Homo sapiens: one gene and its partner. The protein of the gene in region 1 interacts with the protein of each later gene in a pairwise test. Each region holds a gene or a part of one and is shown on either strand. Other genes may lie near its edges.

Region 1 (5,840 bases):
TGATGTTGTATCCTCCGAGAGTCACACCTGGAGGAACGTGATCTCCACATGCCTTTCCTCGGTGATATTAATGTTGATCACCTGGCCAAGATGTTCAGTTTCCCTACTGCATAATTACTATTTATTCCCTTGTAACTAATAAGTAGCCTGTGGGGTTACACTTTAAGAACATGTAGATATTCAGCTCCTCATCAAAATTTCCCCTCCATTTAGCATGGTTGATTAAGAAATCCCTCTTGAGCAAAAAGTGGCACAGGTCAAGGTTGGCCACGGTCCCACAGATCAGAGTTGAAGGTTATTGCTAATATGAAACAATGTCCTCAGGTTCCCAGGGATACTGTGACTAGGCTTAAAACAAGCATGGGAGAAAGAAAATGAAACAAAACTTAACTAAAAAAGAAGTCATAGGAGACAGAAGAGAGAGATGAATATGGTGAAGACCAGGAAGTATGAGCACTTTTCTCCCCCACCAGGAGAGTAGACCTGAGAAGCGTGAAACTCCAAATAGACATGTGTGGTAGGCTGGGCGCAGTGGCTCATGCCTGTAATCCCAGCACTTTGGGAGGTCGAGGCAGGAGGATTGCTTGAGCCCAGGAGTTCAAGGCCAGTCTAGGCAACATAGTGAGACTTCATCTCTACAAAAAATGGAAAAAAATTAAAATTTTAAATTTAAAAATTTTAAACATTAAAAAAAAATGTTTTAAAGACATGCATGGCAAGCTTTTCCTCTTCATATTGAGCGAGGACACCATCCCCCTGCTAAGACACAGGGAGACCTATTCTCAATACCATTCCTGATCACTTCACAATAGAAAACACTCAAAGAGACCAGTCTTCTCTATCCATCTACCTTAGCTCCTGGTCCACAAATCTCTGTGACTCTCCTTCCCAGCAGTTGCTGCTTCATAAAAGCATTCCCTCCAGCCACGTCTCCCAGGTAATCCCACCCCGTCGGACCTTCTTTTCTACTTACGTCCAATCTAGAGTGCCACCAGTAATCATCTCAGATGCCTTCATATAGAGAAGACAGCTTGCCTCCACAAAGTGGTCTTCCCCTCATCCGAGGCTGCAGATTAGACTAGAATTGAGGCTTCAGTGCTGGTATAGGACACAGAGCTGTAGTCCCCCTGGGAAATGGGTGCAGATTTGCTCAGCCTGGTATCCTCACATTCTCTCTACCCTGTCCCACACCACCACACCACCAGGGTCAGGCTATTTATAAATTAGATACTTTTTTTGGACATCGTGGTAGACTGAATAATGGCCCCCCTGAAGATGACACATCCTGATCCCCAGATCCTGTAAATGTATTACTCTACTTGGTAAAGGACTTTGGGGCAGTGATTTAGTTGAGGATCTCGGCATAGAGAGATTATCCTGCATTATCCACGTAGACCCAATGCCATCACAAGGGTCTGATAAGAGAGATGCCGGGGGTGGGCCAGGCATGGTGGCTCACGCCTGTAATCCCAGCACTTTGGGAGGCCGAGGTGGGCGGATCACAAGGTCAGGAGATCGAGACCATCCTGGCTAAAACGGTGAAACCCCGTCTCTACTAAAAATACAAAAAATTAGCTGGGTGTGGTGGCAGGTGCCTGTAGTCCCAGCTACTCGGGAGGCTTAGGCAGGAGAATGGTGTGAACCCGGAAGGTGGAGCTTGCAGTGAGCCAAGATTGTGCCACTGCACTCCAGCCTGGGCGACAGAGTGAGACTCCATCTCAAAAAAAAAAAAAAAGAGAGATGCCAGGGGATCAGAGTCAGTAATAGAAGGTGATGTGATCAGAAGCAGAGGGACAGAGAGAAGCTACTGCACTGCTGCCTTTGAAGACAGAGGAAGGGGCCATGAGCCAAGGCATGCAGGTGGACTCTAGCAAGTGGAAAAGGAAAGGAAACAGATTCCCTCCTAGAGCCTCTAAAAGGAACAGAGCCCTGTGGATCTATTTTGGACTTCTGACCTCCAGAACAGTAAGATAATAAATTGTTGTTTCAAGGCCCCAAGTTGGGGATACTTCATAGGAACAGCAATAAGAGACTAATACGGCGGTGTTTTTCCTTCAGGAAGCTGGGGCTTCCCCCTAGTTAACCAGATACATGAGCTGGACAATGAGCCATTGCCAACATCCACAGGCGCCGGACTGTAGTTTCTGTTCTACCCACCACAGCTAATCCACTGAGAAATTTGGGTGGGACACAGATGAGATTTGGATCTCTGATGAGATGAGATGGGATCACTGATGAGATTTGGGTGGGACACAGAGCCAAACCATATCACTGACTTCTGTTTTCCTTGTATTCCTCATGGCCTTAGGGCAATTCTGTTTCTTGGACACTAATCTTATTTCCCAAACATATCCATCAGCTCACAGGATCATCCCATTCCTCCTGCAGCCCTCTCCTCCCTCCCGCCATGGTACACAAGAGGGAAAATACAGGGGAGACATGTGTCATGCTCGATGTCCAAATAGACATTTTTTCTCCCATGACAGACACAACCTGTGTGAAGGACTGCCCAGAGGGCTATTATGCCGATGAGGACAGCAACCGGTGTGCCCACTGCCACAGCTCTTGCAGGACATGTGAAGGGAGACACAGCAGGCAGTGCCACTCCTGCCGACCGGGCTGGTTCCAGCTAGGAAAAGAGTGCCTGCTCCAGTGCAGGGAAGGGTAAGTGCTCAATACATTTTCCCCCATGTAATTTCACAGCCACAGCAGATATCAACCCATTTTACAAATGAGGAAACTAAGATTCAGAACACTTATAAAACCAGGTTGAAGTCTCAGTGCTAGTAAGGAGCAAAGATGAACCAATTCACAGTAACAGAAGAGAAACAGGAGAGGCAGAGTGACCGAGTGAGTTAACACAAAGGGTCAGATTGTCAAGCCGGACTCACCTGAGCAATTGATCTTCCTCAACGACAGTCCTTACTGAAAATTCAAAGCATATTGGCAGCTGGGCACTGTGGCTCATGCCTGTAATCCCAACTACGTGGGAGGTTGAGGCTGGAGGATCACTTAAGGCAGGAGTTTGAACCAGTATGGGCAACATCTTGAGACCCCATCTGTAAAATATTAAAATAAGATTAGCTGGGCATGGTGCCATCAGGCTATAGTCCCAGCTTCTATAGAAGCTGAGGCAGGGGATGATCACTTGAACCCAGGAGTTGGAGGCTGCAGTAAGCTATGATTGCACCACTGCACTCCAGCCTCAGTGACAGAGCAAGACCTTGTTTCTAAAAATTAAAACAATTTGGCAAAGGGTCTCAGCAATCACAAGGCAGAAGCAAAGCATCCTTTCCTCAGAGAAGCCCAAGATCATTAATGGAGGTTCTTTTTCTTCACCTTCAGGACTTGTTCTGATTCAGATTTAAAATTCAGGGTCTCACATTCTCCCAACCTGCTTATGTGAGGAGAGCAGTGAGTGTGGAACATTGATTTACAAAGGAAATAGTTCCATTAACATCTCCATTTATTCCCCATTAATTCCCCAACCTGTCATGTCACCTATAAATCCACAAATTACAGGTTTTGTTATCATAAACAACGTAGACACACGCACTTGATGTATCCTTCTAAAAGCATTTCATGGATAAGGACTCTATTATTTTTCTGCTAGGAAGAACTGTTAGTGTTATCAGAAGGTCTGATTGCCAGCATATCCTTTTTCTCCCCCAGGCATTCCCAGTAAAGAGTAAAAGATTGATGATAGGCCTGTTGCTGACTCTTTCTACCCAATCAATAACCTAGAGCACTGGGAGTTTCCAGACCCAAATCAAGGGCTGTAACCTTAGACCTTCCTCAAATGCTTTCACCCAAATTGACACATCTCTTCGGTCCTATAGCAGTTACTGCTTGTTTCATTCATTTTAGTGCTATATGCTGCCTTGCATTTTGATTTATCTCATTCATTCACTTATTTATTTAACACATTTCATGATGAGTACTTTGTATGTATAAATAAGATGAGTAAAAGAAAGACTGACTGTGTTTGTTTTCACGCGGCTGATAAAGACATACCCAAAGACTGGGCAATTTACAAACTAAAGAGGTTTAATTCGACTTACAGTTCCATGTGGATGGGGAGGCCTCACAATCATGGCAGAAGGCAAGTAGGAGCAAGTCACATCTTATGTGGATAGCGGCAGGCAAAGAGAGAGAATGAGAGCCAGGCGAAACGGGTTTCTCCTTATCAAACCGTCAGATCTCGTAAGACTTATTCACAACAGCAAGAACAGCATGGGGGAAACCGCCCCTACAATCCAACCATCTCCCACAGGGTCCCTCCCACAGCACATGGGAATTATGGGAGTACAATTCAAGATGAGATTTGGGTGAGACACAGAACCAAACCATATCACTGACTTTAAGAGTTTATTCTTATTTTTATATGCCTCTTCCCAAGAAAATTATAAACTCATGGAAGAAAAACACCTCTTACGTCTTACATTTGCTTCTACAACACTCAGCACAGAGCCACACATTGGCAGCTCTTGAAAAACACCAGCCAGGCTGGGCAGGGTGGCTCACGCCTATAATCCCAGCACTTTGGGAGGCCGAGGTGGGTGGGAGGTGAGGTTAGGAGTTTGAGACCAGCCTGGCCAACAGGGTGAAACCCCATCTCTACTAAAAATACAAAAACTAGCCAGGCATGGTGGCACGTGCCTGTCATCCCAGCTACTTGGGAGGCTGAGGGAGGAGAATTGCTTGAACCCAGGAGGCCAAGGTTGCAGTGAGCCAAGATCACACCACTGCACTCCAACCTGGAGCAAGATTCTGTCTCAGAAAAGAAGAAAAACACCAGTCATATAGATCAAGGAAGAAAGGGCCCTGCCAGACAAGAACAGAGATGGATGGCCAGGTGTGGTGGCTCATGCCTGTAATTCCAGCACTTTCAAAGGCTGAGGCGGGCAGATCACTTGAGGCCAGGAGTTCACGACCAGCCTTGCCAACATGGTGAGACCCTGTCTCTATTAACAATACAAAAATTAGCAGGGTGTGCAGGCAGGCACCTGTGATCCCAGCTACTGGGGAATCTGTGGCATGAGAATTGCTTGAACCTTGGAGGTGAAGGTTTCAGTGAGCCAAGATCGCACCACTGCACTCCAGCCTGGGCAACAGAACAAGACCCTGTCTTAAAAACAAACAAACAAACAAACAAAAACAGGAATGAAGCTACCTGGCTTAGCCCTTCTGCATCACCCTAGTAAGTGTCTGAAAAGATCTGGATCCCATCTTCCTCAAATCAAGTCAGTAAACACTCTCAAACACAAAAAGGGTGCTTGATCATCCTGTGATCTAAGTAGAATGCAGACCATGGAATTAAGAAGACAATTGTTCCACAGCGTGTAAAGTTCCCCAGGGCTGGTGGGGGGAGGCACAGGTTGCCATAGATCTCTTTAATAAAGAAGAAATGGAATATTCATGAGGTATATGAGAACTCTTCCTTTAGTAAAATCAGTGTTCCACATGCTTGGCATAACCCTTGTATGTTAAATCTCTGGCTTGGAAAAGTAGGCATACACTTCTCTGCACCCTATCCCAACCCACGTAATTATTTTGGTGTTTAACTCAGAGAAGTTTCTTTAAAGCCTAGGTTACTGCTTGTGCTTATGCTCTTCAAGGCTGGGAGGCTCAAAAGATGAGTCCTCAAAGCAAGCAGTGGTGTTGTACTCTTTTAATCTGTTCCAATAAACTCTTCATTGTCTCTTTTAGCATTACTCCTTGATAATTTTAAAAACCTACTTAGAATTGATAAGCTTTCTTTCCCACAGTTCCTACTGATGCTTTTCATCTTTATAACAATCTATAATAAAAACAGTAGGTAAAAAAACTTTTGTATGCTG
Region 2 (4,508 bases), on another chromosome or scaffold:
ATGAACTCAGGCATTCAAGCAAACACTGGCTCACAGATGTTCAGAGCAGCGCTGTTCACAGTAGCCAAAATGGAGAAACAAGCCAAGTATATAAAATGACAAATGCATAAATAAGATGTGGTATATCCATAGAATGGGATATTATTCAGCCATAAAAATGGATGAGTACTAACACATACTGCAACATGGACTTTAGAAAACATGGAAAGTAAAAGCAGTGAGTCACAAAAGACCACATATTGCATAATTCCATTTATACGATATATCCAGAATAGGCAAATCCACAGAGACAGAAAGTAGACTGGTGGTCGCCAGGGGCTGAGGGGAAAGAGTGGGGAGTAATTGCTTTACGGGTATCAAGTTTTGGGGTAATTAAAATGTTCTGGAAATTATAGTGGTGATGGTTGCACAACATAGTGAATATATTAAAACCTAAAAAATATACTAAAACCTGGCCAGGCGGTGGTTCACACTTGTAATCCCCGCACTTTGGGAGGCGAAGGTGGGAAGATTACTTGAGGCCAGTTCGAGACCAGCCTGGCCAAAATGTCGAAACCCCATCTCTGCTAAAAATACAAAAATTAGCCGGGTGTGGTGGCACATTCCTGTAGTCCCAGCTACTTGGGAGACTGAGGCAGAGAATCACTGGAACCTGGGAGGTGGAGGCTGCAGTGAGCCGAGATCGCACCACTGCACTCCAGCCTGGGCGACTGAGCAAGACTCCATCTCAAAAAAAAAAAATTATATATATATATACACACACACAAAAACATGGCCGGGCACAGTGGCTCACGCCTGTAATCCCAACACTTTAGGAGGCTGAGGCAGGTGGATCACTTGAGGTCAGGAGTTCGAGACCACCCTGGCCAACATGGTGAAACCCTGTCTATACTAAAAATATGAAAATTAGCCAGGTGTGGTGGCAGGCGCCTGTAGTCCCAGCTACTTGAGAGGCTGAGGCAGAATTGCTTGAACCTGGGAGGAGGAGGTTGCAATGAGCCGAGATCACAACACTGTACTCCAGCCTGGGCAACAGAGCGAGAATCTGTCTCAAAAAAAAAAAAAAGTATATATATATATATATATATATATATATATATATATATATAAAATTACATATATACTTAAGAGTATATATTTATATAGAATGTAAATATATATTAGAGATATATATATACTAAAACCCAACCTGAATTGTAAAATGGTTCATTTGTTACATGATTTATATATTTTTGTTTTGTTTTGTTTTGTTTTGTTTTTTTGAGACGGAGTCTCCCTCTGTCACCCAAGCTGGAGTGCAGTGGTGTGATCTCAGCTCACTGCAACCTCTGCCTCCCGCGTTCAAGCAAGTCTCCTGCCTCAGCCTCCTGAGTAGCTGGGATTACAGGCATGTGCCACCAAGAACGGCTAATTTTTGTATTTTTAGTGGAGATGGGATTTCACCATGTTGGTCAGGCTGGTCTCGAACTCCTGACCTCATGATCCGCCTGCCTCGGCCTCCCAAAGTGCTGGGATTACAGGTGTGAGCCACCTCGCCCAGCTGATTTATATCTTTTTTTTTTTTTTTAAAGCAGAATGCACCCATGCCACAGTGCTCCTTCCTGCAGCCTGTCAGGCGTCGGCCCACCCTGCAACATCCAGGATGTCATTTGAGCCCTGGTCACACGAAAGCACTGCATGGGATGAAGGTGGTTTATTTATTTATTTTTATTTTATTATTTATTTATTTTTTTGACACAGAGTCTCGTTCTGTTGCCCAGGCTGGAGTGCAGTGACACAATCTCGGCTCACTGCAACCTCTGCCTCCCAGGTTCAAGCAATTCTCCTGCCTCAGCCTGGCGAGTAGCTGGGATTACAGGTGCCTGCCCCCACGCCCAGCTAATTTTTGTATTTTCAGTAGAGATGAGGTTTCACCCTGTTGGCCTGGCTGGTCTCAAACTCCTGGCCTCAAGTGATCCCCCTGCCTCAGCTTCCCAAAGGTGCTGGGATCACAGGCACAAGCCACTGCGCCCGGCCGAAGGTGGTTTCTTTTAAGCAATACATTTGTATTGAGAAAAACAAGTTCTTGGCCGGGCGCGGTGGCTCACGCCTGTAATTCCAGCACTTTGGGAGGCCGAGGCGGGCGGATCACGAGGTCAAGAGATCGAGACCATCCTGGCTAACACGGTGAAACCCCATCTCTACTAAAAAAAATACAAAAAATTAGCCGGGTGTGGTGGCAGGCGCCTGTAGTCCCAGCTACTCCGGAGGCTGAGGCAGGAGAATGGCTTGAACCCGGGAGGCAGAGCTTGCCATAAGTCAAAATCAGGCCACTACACTCCAGCCTGGGTGACAGAGCAAGACTCTGTCTCAAAAAAAAAAAAAAAAAAAAAAAAAAAAAAAAAAAAAGAAAGAAAAGAAAAAAGGAAAAAAAAAGAGAAAAACAAGTTCTTTTAAATCTCTAGGTAAAAATAAAATAATTTCTCACACACAGCCAAGTCAACTGCATACCAGAGTACCAAGCATAGTTTCCACATCAGAGGCTTAAGCTCTGGGGTAAAAGCATTTTCTTTAACCAGGTGTCTGTTAATTCACTCATATCAAAGAGAAAACTTGGCTGGGTGTAGTGGCTTATGCCTATAATCCCAGCACTTTGTGAAGCCAAGGTGGGTGGATGGCTTGAGCCCAGGAGTTAGAGACCAGCCTGGGCAGTATGGTGAAACCCTGTCTCTATTAAAAAAAAAAAAAAAAATGGCCGGACGTGGTGACTCATGCCTGTAATCCCAACACTTTGGGAGGCCAAGGTGGGTGGATCACGAGGTCAGGAGATTGAGACCAGCCTGGCTAACATGGTGAAACCCCATCTCTACTAAAAATACAAAAAATTAGCCAGGCGAGGTGGCGCGCACCTGTAATCCCAGATACTCGGGAGGCTGAGACAGGAGAATCACTGGAATCCGGGAGGCGGAGGTTGCAGTGAGCCAAGATCGTGCCACTGCACTCCAGCCTGGGCGACAGAGCGAGACTCCGTCAAAAAAAAAAAAAAAAGGCTGGGCGCAGTGGCTCACACCAGTAATCCCAGCACTTTGGGAGGTGGGCAGATCACGAGGTCAGGAGATTGAGACCATCCTGGCTAACATGGTGAAATCCCGTCTCTACTAAAAAATAGAAAAAATTAGCCAGGTGTGGTGGTGGGCGCCTGCAGGAGAATGGTGTGAACCCGGGAGGCGGAGCTTGTAGTGAGCCGAGATCTTGCCACTGCACTCCAGCCTGGGTGACAGAACGAGACTCCATCTCAAAAAAAAAACTATCCAGGTGTGGTGGTGCAAGCCTGTAGCCCCAGCTGTCAGGAAGCTAAGGTGGGATGATCGCTTGAGCCTGGGAGATTGAGGCTGCAGTGAGCTACAATTGCACCACTGCACGCCAGCCTGGGCAACACAGTGAGACCACATCTCAAAAAAAGAAAGCAAAGAAAACTCTTCATTAGAAACTGAACATGCTCGCTGGGAATGATATTCAGGGCACAGGGCAATTCCTTACAGGGGCACACACCCAAGGGCACTGCTGCCACCACATGGGAAGTTGTGACGGGAGGGAGGAGACTGAGGGCAGGACACAAGACATGGAGACACACATTCTGGTCTGTCTGACCATGGAGCTCTGTCCACACCCAGGCTGCCTGCTGGCTCCCAACCACCACACACAGTATCTGGCGTTTCTCACAGGTGTCGGCTTCTCTCTCTCGAGTCCATCTGCTGGCCGTGGACCTGGCTATTCGGGGCAGGCCCATCCTGCCCACCTCCCCACACTCTCTCAAGCCTCTGTCTCTGAGCACTGCAGGTTTTGTAGTGTTCCCTCGTCTACCTCTGAGAGGCCAGGCTGACTGAAGAGCTCCTGAGAAAGCCACCAGGACCCACTGCTAAAGGGGTTGGTCCAGGGTCATTGCCAGGCTGGGATCTGAGGTCCCCACACATAGGGCAGGGAACTCCCCAGCCATAGACTCTGATGGGGGTACCAGTGTGGACTCCAGCCCTTTACACGGAGGAGGGAGCATGCCACTATGGATGCTGAGCAGCAGGAGGTCAGGGGCCCCGCTTTCACAATGTGCCATCCCAGAAGCCCCACAGCCAGGATCTGGACCTCTCTGACACAACTCCAGGTCACAGAGACCCAGATGTCAGGGATGGAGGGACTTGGGCACCTGCCTTGCTATTAGCTCCAAGGCTGCTGGCTTCATGTCACAGTCTGTACAACAGCTGGTGGCATGAGCAGGGCTAGGACCAGCACTCAGCATGACTTCCTAGAACTCTAGGGACTTAGGGGCTGAGGACTTCCCAGGGTGAAAGACCATACCTGGGACAGCCTGGCCAAACAGGGACAATTGATCACCATGGAATCAGTGGACAGGCCCAAGAATGGATGGGCACATGAGGTCACCCAGGATCAGGCAGGTTCCACTGAAGGAGGCTGCAAAAGATATATCCAATGTCCTAACCCCGGAACTCTCAGAATGTGACCTTATTAGGTCT

The links. Proteins that work in one complex are often made in the same cells at the same time.
Region 2: the proteins of PCSK5 (region 1) and ZNF837 interact in binary tests that used the Homo sapiens proteins (3 or more experiments, as listed by UniProt).

The regions. Positions count from the first base shown.
Region 1 is NC_000009.12:76,329,947-76,335,786, forward strand, and holds part of PCSK5 (proprotein convertase subtilisin/kexin type 5 isoform 3 precursor), read left to right. Parts: intron 1-973; exon of another isoform or gene 974-1,607; intron 1,608-2,486; coding exon 2,487-2,664; intron 2,665-5,840. UniProt on the Homo sapiens protein: Serine endoprotease that processes various proproteins by cleavage at paired basic amino acids, recognizing the RXXX[KR]R consensus motif. Likely functions in the constitutive and regulated secretory pathways.
Region 2 is NC_000019.10:58,374,204-58,378,711, forward strand, and holds part of ZNF837 (zinc finger protein 837), read right to left. Parts: intron 3,907-4,508; exon of another isoform or gene 3,380-3,906; intron 451-3,379; exon of another isoform or gene 1-450. UniProt on the Homo sapiens protein: May be involved in transcriptional regulation.